Linked DNA regions of Homo sapiens: region 2 is linked to region 1. Evidence: fine-mapped expression QTL. Tissue or cell type: whole blood. Region 1 holds a variant in brackets; the other region holds the start of a gene. All regions are shown on one strand. Distances are from middle to middle.

Evidence for each region. PIP is the estimated chance that this variant, and not a neighbour inherited with it, causes the effect.
Region 2: DDX18 starts here. The variant in region 1 is fine-mapped to the expression of DDX18 in whole blood (INTERVAL, PIP 0.92).

What each region holds. Positions count from the first base shown.
Region 1 is chr2:117,860,343-117,865,729 of GRCh38, forward strand. It overlaps the pseudogene HTR5BP. Among named protein-coding and RNA genes, the nearest start is that of DDX18, 48 kb to the left of the region's middle. The variant A/G (reference allele first, on the strand shown) is at 2,224.
Region 2 is chr2:117,812,703-117,818,089 of GRCh38, forward strand. It overlaps DDX18 (DEAD-box helicase 18), which reads left to right and starts at 1,989. Exons shown (of 14, transcript NM_006773.4): 1 at 1,989-2,160; 2 at 4,742-5,026. The coding sequence starts at 2,076. RefSeq lists enhancers at 1,751-2,045, 1,773-2,310, 1,856-1,985, 2,116-2,165, 2,186-2,235 and 1 more.

The sequences.
Region 1 (5,387 bases):
AGCGCGCGCCCAGAGATCACCTGGGGCGCACGAGGACAAGTTTGCCATCAGTTCTTCTGAAGCGGGCACCGAGGGGCTTGTCACCGGCTCACCTGGCACGCAAGTGAGGGGTTCGCCAGCTGCGTACTTGGTGCGCGCAGAGGAAAGGGTTTCACAATCTGCACGTTAGGGAGGCAGATCTGACACCGACCCACGACGCACGATATGGCCGGAGGGGCTTGTAGGTTCAGCCCGTCTCAGTAGCGATGAGGGCACATCTTGTTACCTGCACTATCTGTTGTTTTCCCCCTCAAGGGCCCCTGTCCATGTGAGTCCTGGAGCCGCCGGCTTCCTTGTCCCAACTAGACCTAGAGGGGATGCAGTGGACTGGGAATTCGTCTTTCAGAAATTCCTGTGACCAATCACGCCTTATTTTCTGTCTCCACCGTACCCCAGTCTATCCTCTGCAGTTCAGAGACTATTCCCCAACTCCATTAGCCAGCACCCTGCCAAGGGGAATAGTGAGGATTTTAAAATATAATAATTGGTGTCACTTTGCTTTCCTTATCTCAACCCCGGAGCTATCCTCTAGTGATTTAGGAAAGAGAACCATGGATTCAAATCCCAGCTTGGGACATTAGGACAGTTGCTTAATATCTGTGGGTCTCATTTCTTCATCTTTAAACATGTTCATTCGTAATTGATAGGGCTCTTGGTGAGGATTACGTGAGATGAAGAATGTAAAGCACCTGGCATAGTGGCTGGCACACACTGGGTGGCAGACTGGCTGGAGAAAGAAGGGGTTCAACAGGATATTGCCTGGCAGTCCATAAGGAGGAGGAAGATAATGCTGGAAATGTAATGAGATGAGCAAAATTGCAGTCGGCAGATCTTCTCTCACCGTATTTATTATTCTGTCTGAAGCTTTCTGCCTTTTGGCCAGGATCTAATAGGTGCTCAGCATCCTTCTCACTCTGGAAGCCTCAACTTTCTCTTTTGAGGGTATCAGGTGTTTCAAGTAACATGCTCCCGGTCCTATAGATTAACAGGATTTATTGCCCTTTGCAAATACAATACATGGGTGAGGGAAGAGGTGCATATGAGAGCAAAAAGAGACAAGGAAAGTTTTTTGTTGCTAGTTTTGTTTTAATTTTGGAAAATTAACTCAGATACTTAGAATACAGGACAAATACATGTGATTTTTAAAGTAGGCCTTTTTTCTTCTACATTAAATGGCAGAGGAATTTTGCAGCATAAAATAGGAATGTCAAGACTATAACTGGAAGTGTTGGTGAGGGAGAGTTTTATTCAGAATTAATGATGTTCTTTGAAAGGTCCCTTGGAAATGCCTGGGGTGATTATAGCTTTTCTGTCTGATTGCCGAGCTAGGGCTGACTTTTAATAGCTACGTCAATCCAATGCGCACTTAGAGAAATCACGGTGAAATGGATGCCGGAAAACCTTGCCAAGCCTGATTTTAGTGTTCATTTTTGACAGTTCCCATTCAGGCAGGTGACACAGGGAAGAGGTGCCTGGATGAGAGGCTGGCCAATCTGGAGTGTCCATTGGTGGATAGAGAGAGCTCTGAGAGGAAGAGGAACTGTTAAAAATTTAGCCACTCCCGGCAGGAGGACCTGGGGCAAGCCCTTCCCCACTTTGGGCCTCAACTTCTCTAACATACAGTATTCTTCTAAGTCATGTCTAAGGGCCTTGAATCACAGGATGCTGAGATTGTAGATGGGGTAGTGTTCAGGAGCATGCTGCTTCTATGGGTCACAGCAAGCCCTCACTCAAACTTCTGGGTAATGTTCCTGAGTCCACGTTTGCAAGCCTTCTGGAAACAAGACATCTAAACAAAAGTGTAAAACACCGCGCCAGGAATACTTCCTCTCTACTTTCCCCCACCTGCATCATTCTACTCTCCAGGCGAAATGAGTTGTATTGTGTTTAGGCTCTGCAAAGTGTCTGTACTGTTTTCTGCAGGGAACAGGAGCCTATGTGAAGCCTGAAGGCCTCTGTTGATGAGGCTGTGTAAGACCTTCATCTTTTTCAGAATTCCGTGTCTAGGTCCCAACACTAACATATTATAAGACAGGGGTCTTATCAGAATGTAGTTTTTGGGCAATGATTAATCCTTTGGGGCAAAATGCAGTTTTTCAAAGTTGAGAAGGGAAAAAAATGTTTATTGAGTGAATTGTCTCTTCCAGACACATTTCTGATGCTTTACATTCACCCTTTCATTTC[A/G]TTCTCACAATTCAGTAAAGTTGGCATTAAGTCTCTATTAGTCAGGATAAGCTAAGGCATGCTGTGGTAACATGTAACCCCAAACCAGAAGTTTATTTCACTCTGACTTAAAGTTCAATGTGGGTCTGCATACCTGCACAGCTCTCTTCCAGGCAGTCTCTCATGATTTTGGGCCATTTATCATTTTTAGCTATGCTGCCTTGCACATGTGCCTTCCAGATTTATTGTGGGAGAAGAGCTATGTATGGAGATATGCCAGCTTTTTACTGCCTTACCCTGAACTGGAAGCATGTCATCACTATTTGCAGCCCATTGGCCAGCCATTGGCAGTGAATTGGAAGGGAGCATGTAGCTATCTGGTGAGCACTGTCTTTGCCATAAGGCCCTCATTTTACAGATGAGAAAACTGCAAGAGAAAACTATGGTAAGGCACCACAAACCTAGTTCATCCAAAACCACGCAGTTCCTGGGTAGAGAGTCTGAAGGTTGTACCAGATCTAAGAATCACTATTTTTGGCCAGGTGCGGTGGCTCATGCCTGTAATCCCAGCACTTTGAGAGGCGGAGGCAGGCGGATCACGAGGTCAAGAAATCGAGACCATCCTGGCCAACATGGTGAAACCCCATCTCTACTAAAAATACAAAAATTAGCTGGGTGTGGTGGCACATGCCTGTAGTCCCAGCTACTCTGGAGGCTGAGGCAGGAGAATTGCTTGAACCCAGGAGGTGGAGGTTACGGTGATGCGAGATCGTGCCACTGCATTCCAGCCTGATGACAGAGCGAGACTCCGACTCAAAAAAGAAAAAAGAAATCACTGTTTTCATTACTCCATGCCATCTCCAGGGACTTGACTTCTGAGGCCTGCCCCTCTGCTCATGGGTGTCTCTGCTTGAGAGGAATGAGGCAGTCACAGCCCAGTCAAGGTGGGTCCCACGAAGCAGGATCTCAAAACTACTCAGGTGAACTCTCCTTTTCAGGAGAGCTGAACACAATTGAGCACAAAAGCCTTGCCTGCTTCCCTCAGGGGACAGGTTTAATTCCTGCCCTGGTGTCTTTTCTTTCAACATCTTAAACTGAGACTCTGAGCATCCCATGTACACTATAATCTGCTCCCCACCCCAAAGCAAGCCCCATGGGTTACGATTACTTCCTACTGCCCTGTGCCCTTCACTGTTTAGAAAAGAAGAAACATTATTTCTTTGGCTTTTAAAATGTGACATTAAAAGGGTTTTTTTTTTTTTTCCTATCTCTCTCTCTTTTCTTTGCTATTGCTTGTTTGATTTCTGTGTGCAATTTGATGCTGGGACCTAGTTATCCATCAGGCGTAGTAGTCATACTACTTAGAACCAGAATTCTTTTAGGGACCCATAGAAATATTTTAATTTTAATTTCTTTTAAAATTAGAGGAAAAATGAATATAACACTAATGAATATATTATAATGAATCCAGTCTTGCTTATACTTGCTTATACTAATGTTTAACATAATTTTCAGTATTTCTTAATGAAGGAAGGGATACATTAAGGCAAAGATGTCTAGGGACCACACAAATTATAATGAAGCCTTGGTTAATATCTTGCCCTCATTCTTTTTTTTAATCGTACTATTGCTTTCTTTTTAAAATTTTTAAATATATTTTTTAATAGCTTTGGGGCTACAAGTGGTTTTTGTTTACATGGATGAATTATATAGTGGTTAATTCTGAGACTTTAGTGCAATTGTCACCAGACTAGTGTCCCCTTCTAAGTCTCCAAAGTCCATTATATCACTCTGTGTGCCTTCCCATATATTCATAGCTTAGCTCCCACTTATAAGTGAGAACACATGGTATTTGGTTTTCCATTCCTGAGTTACTTCTCTCAGAATAATGGCCTCTAGCTTCATCCAAGTTGCTGCCAAAGACATTATTTTATTCCTTCTTATGGCCAAGTAGTATTCCATTATGTATATATACCACATTTTCTTTATCTACTCATTCGTCAATGGGCACTTAGGTTGGTTCCAAATCTTGGCAATTGTGAATTGGGTTCTTGCACTCATTCTTAATAAATATATATTGGGAGATAATGTACACAGTGGTTAAGAACATGGGACTTGGAAACAAAGAAACGTGGGTTTCAATTTTTTTGACTGCCACTTATTAGCACTTCAGCCAAGTGACTTAATCTACATCTGCAATTCTGCATATGTAAAATGGAAATATTACCACGTGTCTTTTAATATTCTTGTGAAGAGCAAATGAAATTCTATCATATGTGGAGTCCCTTAAGTAGTAAACCATAAATAATAGCTACCGCATTACTTTTGTTATTTTTCTATTTCTCTTTAATAAGAAAAGTATTATTTTATTTCTCTTATTGCTATTCCTCATAATCATAGGTAGATTATTTATTGCTTGTGTAGAAAATTATCCCACAGTTTAGTGGCTTAAAAGAACAAACATGTATTAATTCACAGTTTCTGTGGGTTGGGCATTCAGAATGGCTTAGCTGGGTGGTTCTGACTTGACATCTCTTTTGGCTGTAGGCAAGATGTTGCATGGGGCTGCAGTCATTCAAAAGCTTGACTGAGGCTGGAAACTTTGCTTCCAAGATGGAGCACTCACATGCCTGTTGACAAGAGGCTTCAGATCCTTGAGAAAAGGACATCTCCAAAGGGCTGCTTGGGTGGTACCACATGATAGCTGACTTTCCCCAGAGCAAGCCGTCCAAGAGAGTGAAGCAAGGAGGAAATTGCAGTGCCTTTTATGACTTAGTCTCAGAAGTCACATATGATTATTTTCTATTCATTAGCAGTGAGTCACTAAGTCCAGCTCACACTCAAGAAAAGAGGAATTAGGCTTCATCTTCGGGAGAAGTATTTCCCAAAACATATTGAATGTAGTGTTCAAAATTACTCGATTGACTTACTGATCTTATGTACCAGGCAATGTCCTCTGAGGTTTCAAAGAATGAATAAGCACTTTCCTGCTCCCAGTGGATTTTTAGTAGATTATAATTATAGAATTATAAATGCAATAAAGTCTTATAAGTGCTCTGCTAGAAATCTGTCCAAAGTACAATGGTATCTGAAAGATTTAATAGTGTATGGGAAAGCACTATGTAAACTGTGAAGGGCAAAGTAAATGTGAGGTATTGAGCTTTAGGGTTTATGGCAACTTGGAA
Region 2 (5,387 bases), 48 kb before region 1:
AACCCAATGACATTGTTTTCTTTGCTAGAGTAACTGATGATGTGGCCTTGGAAATTCACTCTGTTAAAAATAACTCTCAACCCTAATTTTGAGAGTTGATTTGAAGTTATAATTTCTCATTCTTCTTCTAAAAATCCAGAAGAATTGGCATCAGTAGCTTTATCTATGTTTCTTAAAAGGTTATCAATCCCTAACGTTAAGCATTTCCATGCACCTGAAAGGATCGGCTTCTCTGATCTAAATGTCTTAAACACCTCGTAAATGTGGGTTTTTTTGGTTTTGAGGAAATGACTGCCAATCTTCACTACTAGCTAGAAAAAGTCACACTCTAGAAAAAAGGGAGTACCTTTCCATTACTACTACCAAAACATAGCCCCACAAATTTAAGTTACAACATAAAAGAAATAACAAATTTTGAGCACTTTCTATATATACTTCAGTTGTATCTATTTCAAAGTCACAGACCCAAAACTCACACATGTAATCAGGTAAATATATATGTATGTACATAGAGCTATAGAAATAGATACATATGTGTATATGCATATATATACTGATATATGCATAAATTTAAACTGGCATATATATTTACACTGAGATAAATGTTTGCGTGTGTGTGTGCGCTCTTACATTTCTGAATCATTCTTCAGCCTGCCTGATCATTAACAAATTAATCTAAGCACATTATTATTTGTTTGTCTTAGTTTTCCAGTCCAATCCAATGTGATTTCGAAGTCAATTCCTTCACATTCTGTTTAAACTCCCTCCCAAGTTTTCTCCCTCTCTGTTCCTCACTATGATCAGGTCTAATCTCCAGGGTCTCATGTTCTGCCCCTCCAAGTAAACAAATTAATCCAGGTTTCATGGACTCTTCCAGTTGTTCAGCTCAAATTGATTACTGTTAAGGGGAATTTGAGGGCATTGGGCCAATTTTTAAAGACAAATATGAATTTTTATGGAAATCTCCAAGTATTTTAATGTTGATAACAATTTTTTTAAAAATTAAATACTATATGCATACCCCTGTCTTCCTCCCCATCCCAAAAAAGAGATGACTATTAGCTAGCCACATTGCAATTTCTGTCCTGGACTGCTGAAGGGTCCTTGGGTATACTTAAGGAATATATAAACCTCTTTTTCAAACTGCAGTCAACCTATTATTAATGTAGTAAAGTTAATTTAAATTCATAGGAATCAGTATTTTTAGTAAGCTAAAAAGAATAATTTAGGATGGAATGAATGGAATTGAAGGAAAAAGAGTGAAAAGCAAGAATATTATTTTGAGAAATGTTATATTTATGTGTGTATGTGTACCAAGTGACACAGAAATTGTATTTCTGAGGAGAGTGGCCAAACAAGTTTGGAAATGCATATATATAATTTAGTTCTATTCAGTTTCCCAAATACAGTTGTCCCTCAGTATCCACAAGGGATTGAGTCCAGGACCCTCTATGGGTACCAATATCTTAGGATACTCAAAACCCTTATATACAATAGTGTAATATTTGCATTTATTTTACACACAACATCCTGTATACTTTAAATCATTTCTAAATGACTTATAATACCTTATACAACCTAAATGCTATGAAAGTAGTTATCACACTGTATTATTTTTAATTGTTTTTTTTTTAATGTTTTCAATGGGGGAGTTGGTTGAATCCACAGACAGGGAATTCAGGTACAGGGAGGGCCAACTCTAGTTCTGCACCCACAGAGGATAGGAACATAAAAATGCGGACTCCCTAAGGCCTCCTTCCCCTCCACGTTCTTTCTTCAGTCTTCCTCTAGGGGGAGCTCAAGTTAGCTTTAGCACAGTGTGAAGCCAGTGCAGCGTCTCGCTTCCACTTCTCCAGGGGGCGCTGCAAAGATTTTGGTCGCCAAAGATATCACGGTGCGCGCGTCTGGAAGCATTTCCGCTCTGGAGCATTTTCGTTCCGCCGGGTGCCAGCGTTCCTGTGACGCGTTTCCTGTTGGCCGAGCTGCGCACGTGCGGCCGGAAGGGAAGTAACGTCAGCCTGAGAACTGAGTAGCTGTACTGTGTGGCGCCTTATTCTAGGCACTTGTTGGGCAGAATGTCACACCTGCCGATGAAACTCCTGCGTAAGAAGATCGAGAAGCGGAACCTCAAATTGCGGCAGCGGAACCTAAAGTTTCAGGGTGAGATGCGTTGACTCGCGGTGGCTCAGAAGACCCACGCGCGAGCCCTGGCGCGTTCGGGCGGCCGGGGGCCCAGCTGCTCTGTGTGACGGAGGCAGCTTCCCCTGCAGCGTGTGTGATTGGGGAGAGTGAAAAGGCAGCTTCCACTCGGGACCCGCGCTGCTGCCCACTCGTCGCGTGGCTCCAGCGCTGCTCCTGACCTTTCTGAGCAATCAGTGTCTTCTTACAACGTTAGAGCGGGAGGACTCCCCGTTCACTTCTAGGCTTACGACTAACCCTGCCTTTTGCATTTCCACCTTAGCTTTTGGTTCCCTCACCACCTGCAAGTCGCACCTCACCTCATCCCTCATTTCCGGTTATGCTGCATGAAACGTCTCATTTCCACCCACTTTTCACATCTATTTAATTCCCGTATTTCTTTCCCCAAAAGCCCGTCTGGCTGTTTCCACAGAGCTTCTTTGATACTATTGCCTTCCTCTACCCACTTCCACACGTTCTCGTAGCACTTTCTCACCAGAGCTTCTACGTATTTGTGTCCCGCACAGTGACCTAAATGAAAAGGATTTTATCTGAATGTCACCTTTCTTACCTACCTCATTTGCAGTCCCAGTGTCCTGACAGTGGGGCCACAGATCTTGAAGTAATTGTGTTAACCTGTTGTCCAGGTTAAGATACAAACTCCCCGAGGGAAAGTTTGGAGGCACAGTGCCTTGCCCCAGTTGGTTTTCAACAGACATTAATTGAAAAAAAATTCTGCAGGAGGCAATAGGTTTGTGAATTTTAGGAATATGTTTTGAAATACTCTTGTATTTCTAATTCCTATAGAATAATACTACAGCATTACTACTTTTCAGCGCATATGTAAGTAAATTTGAACAAAAGATGGTGTTTTATCTTTTTCAGTAAACAAACAGGGAACCTTTGGTAAGGACATTCTCAGGTACAGTCATGCATCGCATAACAGGAGGGGGGATACATTGTGAGAAATGTGTCATTAGGGGCTTTTGTCGTTTTGCGAACTTTATCTAGTTACACAAACCTAAATCTACTACACACCCAGGCTACATGATATAGCCTGTTGCTCGTAAGCTGTCATCCTGTACAGCATGTTACTGTACTATACTCAGAGAATTGTAACACAATGGTAAGTGTATGTATGGCTAAATATATCTAAACATAGAAAAGGTACAGTAAAAAGACTATGACATGAGAGATTTAGAAAATGGTACCTCTGTATACAGTACTTACCATGAATGGAGTTTGCAGGACTGGAAGTTACCCTGAGCGAGTCAGTGAGCGGTGAGTGAATGTGAAGGCCTAGAACATTACTGTACACTATAGACTTTATAAACACTGTACACTTGGGCTACACTGTTGAGTTTTTTAATACTTTTATTCTTAAATTAACCTTAGCCTGCTGTAACTTTTACATTATAAACTTGTTAAATTTTAACCTTTTGACTTTAATAACACTTAGCTTACAACACAAGCACATTGTACATACAGCTGTACAAAAAGTTTCCTTTTGTCCTTATTCTATGTGATTTTTATTTTATTTTTTTTTCTTTTTAAGCTTTTTGTTAAAAATGTAAAGACACAGACACATTCAGTTTCACTGTCTTCCGCTTCCACATCTTGTCCCACTGGAAGATCTTCAGGGGCAACAATAGGCATGGAGCTGTCATCTCCTATGATAACAGTGCCTTCTAAAATACCTCTCTCCCTGAGGCTCTTTTACAGTCGACTCATTTTTTTTTAATAAGTAAAAGGAGTAAACTCTAAAATGATGATCAAAAGTATAGTAAACACATAAACAAGTAACATAGTTTATTATCACGTATTATGTATTGTACATAATTATGTGTGCTGTACTTTATACGACTGGCATTACAGTAGATTTGTTTATACTAGCATCACTACAAACATGAGTAATATGTTGCACTACGACATTGCAGTTACTGATGGCACTAGGTGATAGGAATTTTTTAGCTCCGTTATAATCTTATGGAGCCACTGTATATGTTGTCCTTAATTCACAGAAATGTCATTGTGCACGCATTACTGTATTTGCATATGATAAATATTGGAGCAAATAAGTGGTCTTATCAACTGAATTTTCAACTCACTGCAGTCTAGAAGAGTTGGGGTTGAATGTTTTGAAGTGGTATGAAAAATAGTACTTGTGTGAATGAGTTGTAAATGTCTTTTTCAATATATCAGTTAATCATATGTTTATCAAATACTTATGTTTATTCTGTAACTGCCATTATCTGACCTCATCTGTTTAAATATTTGACCTCATTGAAGTTTTCCTGTCCTAGACTCCTTAAAGTCAGATGTACGGTCTTTTGCAGTTAAGAAATCAATATAGCTTTCCCTTTTCCAGTATTTTTTCTTTAAGATAACTTACTTTCCCTATAAGGGAACACCATAAAACTATAAGTTGTTTTAATTACATGAAAGAGAAGAAAATCTAAATAATTTGTGTCAGGAAGCCATGGAAGTTCTCATTTGGGATTTCAGTGTTTCTAAGTAAACTTCTCCTTCTTTGTCACAGTATATGTTCTGTTTATTTAAACAGGGGCCTCAAATCTGACCCTATCGGAAACTCAAAATGGAGATGTATCTGAAGAAACAATGGGAAGTAGAAAGGTTAAAAAATCAAAACAAAAGCCCATGAATGTGGGCTTATCAGAAACTCAAAATGGAGGCATGTCTCAAGAAGCAGTGGGAAATATAAAAGTTACAAAGTCTCCCCAGAAATCCACTGTATTAACCAATGGAGAAGCAGCAATGCAGTCTTCCAATTCAGAATCAAAAAAGAAAAAGAAGAAAAAGAGAAAAATGGTGAATGATGCTGAGCCTGGTAGGTATTTATTATCTTTGAACTTCAGCCATTTAGTTTTTCACAGACGGTTATTGTTCCTCTTTCTATTACTATTGTGTGCACATGACATGAGAATTCCCTGTACTCACCAGTATGTTAGAGATTAGCCTGGTAGCTAATGGAAACATTTTATTGGCAGAAGCGGGGAGTCCATTTCAACTTTTCTCAAAATATTGAGGAATATATTTTTAATTTCACTAACCTTGAAGAAAACCTCTCTCAGAAAAGACTCTCCTTAGAATTCTAGAAATTTTCTCTTCTTTTTAAGTTACCTTTTTTCCTGCTTGATTCTTCCCATTTTCCTTCCATAAATTCCTCCCTTTGAAAGGAATATTAGTTA